2 separate regions of the Homo sapiens genome follow, and region 1 is linked to region 2. The links come from fine-mapping of genetic effects on gene expression. A gene starts in region 2. The other region holds a variant in brackets. All regions are shown on one strand. Distances are from middle to middle.

Region 1 (2,923 bases), 86 kb after region 2:
AGAGGAAGGACACTGAAGGAAAGACTGGGAAAACCTGACTGAGGTCTGGAGTGTAGTTAGTGATACTATACCAAGACTAATTTCTTAGTTTTGATAATTTATTAACAGTTATGTTAACATTGGGGGTAGCTGTGCAAGGGGTGTGAGAAAGCTGTTATATCTTTAACCTTGGCCCATGGTTAAGGTGTTTCCAGTGTAAGGTCACTGTTATTCCTTGTAGTTAACATATATTTGGCACCACAGGATTCATTCTGGAATTCTTGGCTTATTTATAACTTTTTTTCTTTTTCTAGTAGTGAGAAACCTGGCTTTCGTGCAGAGTTTACAAACGCCAATTTAAACTTTTGTTTTGTCATAGGCAATAATTTTATTACCTTTATTACCTGTATTTATTTCAGAGCTTATGAATTTTTAATTATTCTAAGGGCTAACACAGAACTTTTTCATGTTTTCTACTCTTCAAGAGCAGGTAAGACTTTAGTTTGTAATACATTACAAGAGGAATCCTGTGGTTCTCTAAGAGCTAATTTGTCTTGGCAAAAGGCCTTAGCGAGCTGTGAGTGGTGGCTCATGCCTGGAATCCCAGCACTTTGATCTGAGACGGCTGGATCACCTGAGGCCAGAAGTTTGAGGCCAGTTTGGCCAACATGGCGAAACCCCATCTCTGCTAAAAATACAAAAAATTAGCCAGGCATAATGGCATGCACCTGTAGTCCCAGCCACTTGGGAGGCTGAGGCAGGAGAATTGCTTGAACCTCGGAAGTGGAGGTTGCAGTGAGCCGAGATCGTGCCACTGCACTCCAGCCTGGGAAACAGCGAGACTGTCTCAAAACAAACAAAAAAAAACAACAAAAAAAAAACAAAACAACAAAAAAATTAGACGGGCGTGGTGGCATGCACCTATAGTCCCAGCTACTCAGGAGGCTGAGGCAGGAGAATCACTTGAACCCAGGAGTTGGAGGTTGCAGTGAGCAGAGATCATGCCGCTGCACTCTAGCCTGGGTGACACAGTGAGTATCCATCTCAAAACAACAACAACAACAACAAAAACAAATTAAAAAACCCAACAACAACAAAACCAGCAAACAAGAAAACTAAACAGGCTTTAGGGAAAGAGCAATCTAATTATCTGATTATATGATTGGCACTAAGATGGGAATGACTCTGGCCTAATTTCTTCAATTTACATTTTAAAACAGGAGCTTAGTTAGCCCCCAAATAATATGTAATTGATGTATTAGGGTTGGGGAGTGAATATTTTTCAAAGCAGAAGATATTTCTCAATTCTTGCTTACTTTTGGAGGTTGAAGTTCAAGGAAGCCCCTGCCTTGGCACTGTATTCCAGGGAGGTATTTGGAGTTAATTTCAGGGCTTAGCAGTGACTCTTTAGAAAAGCAGTATACGATTGAAATGTAATGTGGTACAAATGAGATCACTACAAGTAATTTAAAAATGTGCTAGTAGTGTTTCTTTTTCTGAGACGGAGTCTCGCTCTGAAGCCCAGGCTGGAGTGCAGTGGCACGATCTCGG[C/T]TCACTGCAAGCTCCGCCTCCCAGGTTCGCGCCATTCTCCTGCCTCAGCCTCCCTAGTAGCTGGGACTACAGGCGCCTGCCACCACTCCTGGCTAATTTTCTGTGTTTTTAGTAGAGACGGGGTTTCACCGTGTTAGCCAGGATGGTCTCGGTCTCCTGACCTCGTGATCCTCCCACCTCAGCCTCCCAAAGTGCTGGGATTACAGGAGTGAGCCACCACACCCAGCCTCTAGTAGTACTTTTATCAAAAGTAAATAGAAACATGGAATTAATTTTCACAATACATTTTATTTAAACTAATATGTTCACAATGTTAAAATTTCAACATGTAATCACTATAAAAACTACTAGTGAGATATTTCACATTACTTTTTTCATGTAAGCCTTTGAAATCTGGTGTGTATTTTATATTTACTGTACATCCTGATTTGGAATAACCACATTTCAATCTTTCAATAGCCACATGTGGCTAGTGGCTACTGTGTTAGAGCAGTTCTAGAACAAAGGAGTCCCTTTCAAACTATTTTGAAGTCATCGTCTATAAGGCAATATGAAAGCTGATCTGAATGATTTCTCCTTTTCCAGGAAAGGAAACAAAAATGAAATCATGTTAGGGCTGCATATTTTATGGGTCCCAGGACAAATAGACATAGTCTGAAAGAATGATCTCAGTCAGAAACTCAGAATGAATCATATGAATTAAACATTGGACAATGTCCAATGCTCAGCATGTGTTTTTGGTTTATACTAAGAACATATTATGCCACCAAATACAGATATTTACTATTATACTTAGTGTAGGAGGTATATTGAGACATTGTTCTACACTACCACAGTTCCATATTTTGTGAAAAGCTATGTTGCACTTTTTTTTTTTTTGAGAGTGTGCCCAGGCTGGAGTGCAATGGCATGATCTCAGCTCACTCCAGCCTCCGCCCCACCAGGTTCAAGTGATTCTCCTGCCTCAGCCTCCCTAGTAGTTGGGATTACAGGTGCGCACCACCACGTCTGGCTAATTGTTGTATTTTTAGTAGATACGGGGTTTTGTCATGTTGGCCAGGCTGGTCTCGAACTCCTGACCTCAGGTGATCCACCCGCCTCAGCCTCCCAAAGTGTTAGGATTACAGGCGTGATCCACCACGCCCAGCCTTATATTTCACTCTTTGGGAATTGTATCTTACTGTAATCTTAAACTACACTAAAATAAATAATGTAAACCTTTTGTCAAATTGCTCAGAGTAGGTTTCTACTTTGGTTATAAGGAATAAAATTCATGCTTTTGTATACACACTAGACATCTAAAGCAATCAACTATAGTTAACAAGCAGTGCTCTTACCAAAAGGTAACTCTTTCTAGAATCTGTCACACCATTTAATAGCAGTATGAGCATAT
Region 2 (2,907 bases):
ACTTTCCTTCAGGACTAATATATTAAATAGGCCAAAACACTGACTTGTCATTTAAAAATTTTTTAAGGTCACTTCATAAGTATAAAAAACTCATGCATGGTCGGGCGCGGTGGCTCACGGCTGTAACCCCAGCACTTTGGGAGACCCAGGAGGGCGGATCACCTGAAGTCAGGAGTTCGAGACCAGCCTGGCCAAAATGGGGAAACCCCATCTCTACTAAAAATACAAAAATTAGCCAGGCGTGGTGGCGCGTGCCTGCAGTCCCAGCTACTCGGGAGGCTGAGGCAGGAAAATTGCTTGAACCCAGGAGGCAGAGGTTGCAGTGAGCCGAGAGCGCGACACTGCACTCCAGCCTGGGCGACAGAGGAGACTCCATCTCAGAAAAAAAAAAAAAAAAAAAAAAAAAAAAAAAAAAAAAAGGCATGCCTAATAGTATTTATAAAATACTCGCATACATTTTACATGTTAATATTATTACGAAATAAAGTAACGTTTATATAATTATTTCAATAGCTATTCCTATTTAAGTAATAATTGGGTAAATTTAACAGCAAATACAAGAAAAAACTGCATGGCAAGCTATTTTCCTTAAAACATGATTCTGAACACTAAACGTTACAAAAACAGATACTTGCTACAACTGTGAAGGAGAAACTGCATTTCCCTATTATTACAAGAACAAAGGTTTTCACAAAAAAATTTAAGGACTCTACAGCCGCCTTGTTCTTTGTTATCCCACCCCTGCCCGCCTCGGCTAACGGTTTTGGGGCCCGTTTGCTTGGTGCGTCTGGAACTCCTCGGGCGGCGGGCGTCTCGCAGGAAAAACCGCGGCCCGTACTGCGCCGGGAGCAGAAGCGCTGGTGGCCCTCGTAGGTCCCGTGGGCTGCCTCCCCCTCCTGCAGACACTCGAGGAGCCATCCGGCCGCGTCTCTCGCCGCCCGGCCCCGCCACTAGGCTGCCGCCTCCGCCGCTGCACAGAGAAGGGCGAAGACCCGCCCCTGCAGGTGATTGACGGGCACTCTCCTCCAATGGTCAACGCGCTCGGCCCCGGCGGGCTGGGCAAGGGCCGCGGCTCGCGGAGGAATCTCTCTTGCCCTTTAGTCCCGGGCAAGGTGTTGCGGCCGGCGCCATTTTCTCGAGCCGCCTGTTTCGGGTGCCGCCATGTTGGTGAGGAGAAATCACCGTTACGGCCACTGTCCAAATCCCCGCGTCGCTGCACGCCGCCCGCCCGCTCCCACGCCACAGCCACCGGCGGCGAATAGAGACTAGAGCGGCAGCGCCGGCAGCGCGGGGCCGTTGCCCAGTGTTTGCAGTTAGAGCCCCATCTCTCTGGCGTGGTTGTTAATAGACTGGAAAGTCTGTGTCTGTGTCGCTCACTAGTAACCGTGAGTTTTTACCACTTCGTCACCTGTCGGCGGCGGCCGGGAGCAGGTTCCCGCAGGCGGCGCGGGGGGTCTTCCCCGCGCCCCGCCGCCGCCGGCCTCGCAGACCTGCCCTCCAGCCCCGCCCCGTTCTTGACCAAACATGACAGACTCTGAACATGCAGGGCACGACAGGTCGGGAACCCTTCTTGTCTGTCTTTCTGTCGGATGAGAGGAGGGGTCTGGGGCGGCGGGAGCGGGCCGGGGCCGGGCGCCTCCTGCATGACCTAGACGTCTCTGTGTGGCTCCGTCAGTTCCATGACGCGCACTCTTATGTAAACTGCTGGATCGCGGCCGCGGGGGAGGTCGGCCCGGCCGCGCCCGCCTCCCCGAGCCGGGGTCGCTGCTCGCCAGCGCCGGCCCCGCCCCCGGCCGGGCACGTGCGAGCCCCCCGCCCCCCGGGCGGGCTCCGTGTGCGCCGGGCGGCTCTCAGCGTCCCGGCTCGGTGCTGAGGTCCTGCTTCTGCCCGTCCAGGTGTCGGTGCTCCCGGCCAGATAGGACCAGCCAGGAATTTTCAGGAATGGGTGTTTTGATATTTGACTGCTTCCCGAGAACCGAGAACACCTCTAAAAAAATAAACATTTGGTTTTCAGGGAAGTTTTAAGCAGCACCAAAAGGCCATCTGTTGTATACAGTCTTATCCCTTGGAATTTGAGATGGCAAGTTTCAAGTTTAATATGTTAACACAAAATACTTAGGCTTTGCAGAAACTTAGTTTAGCACAGTTTTACCCTAACGTAAAAACTCCATGGATTATTCCGGCTAGCCCAATTTTCTAGATGGTGTGTATCACTTGAATATTGAGATTCTGATTTTTTATTTTTTGCTCTGTGCCTTAAGAGGCACATTCTTGTTTCCATTCGAGTTTGGGGACATTTACAAAGTATACTGTAGCATACTTAAATTTTGGTTATAATTCAAATTTTCATTCGTATATATCTTTAATAATGCGAAAGGGGGGCTTTCATTCATTAAACTTACTGAAACAAAATCCATTGCATCTGATTCTTACTTAGAATATTAATTTGAAAATCTAGAACCTCACAATTACTCCTTTGTGAATAGAAGTAAGAAAAAATATACGTTTTACTATAGACTATATACATTGCTGAAGTTTTATCTGTAGTAATGTGATCGGCTTGGTAAAGCATCCTAAACACGTTTTTTAAAACCCAGAAGCAAAAATCACAAACACTGCTGAAATTTGAAATATCTAAATACCTAGCAATCTTGAGAGGGATAAAAATGGTATTTCAACAACTTCAGTATTGTAATAATAAAAGTAGATTCCCAGAGGGCACGTCAATCAAAGTGTAAAAATTTTTGGAAAGTAAAATGCACTTTTAAAAATGATAAGCTTGCACTTGGCACATTTTTAATGATTTTTTTAACGTTATCTTTTGTATTAAAAAGGAAATTCTTAGAATGGGTTGACTAATACCTTGCTCTTGAGGTATGGACAAACCAATGATGGGGTTTTGCTAAT

Direction of the effects. Positions count from the first base shown, and alleles are read on the strand shown. Sizes are in standard deviations (SD) of each study's normalised expression.
For the expression in lung of the gene that starts at base 1,127 in region 2, allele C in region 1 goes with a higher level than allele T (moderate effect, 0.59 SD a copy in GTEx).

The links. PIP is the estimated chance that this variant, and not a neighbour inherited with it, causes the effect.
Region 1: its variant is the best candidate, but not a certain one, in a credible set for the expression of ZC3H6 in lung (GTEx, PIP 0.66).

The regions. Positions count from the first base shown.
Region 1 is chr2:112,360,895-112,363,817 of GRCh38, forward strand. The region is part of intron 1 of LOC124906067 (a long non-coding RNA gene); the gene reads left to right. Among named protein-coding and RNA genes, the nearest start is that of RGPD8, 71 kb to the right of the region's middle. The variant C/T (reference allele first, on the strand shown) is at 1,531.
Region 2 is chr2:112,274,471-112,277,377 of GRCh38, forward strand. It overlaps ZC3H6 (zinc finger CCCH-type containing 6), which reads left to right and starts at 1,127. Exons shown (of 12, transcript NM_198581.3): 1 at 1,127-1,556. The coding sequence starts at 1,525. RefSeq lists enhancers at 829-1,401, 1,017-1,226 and a silencer at 1,417-1,896.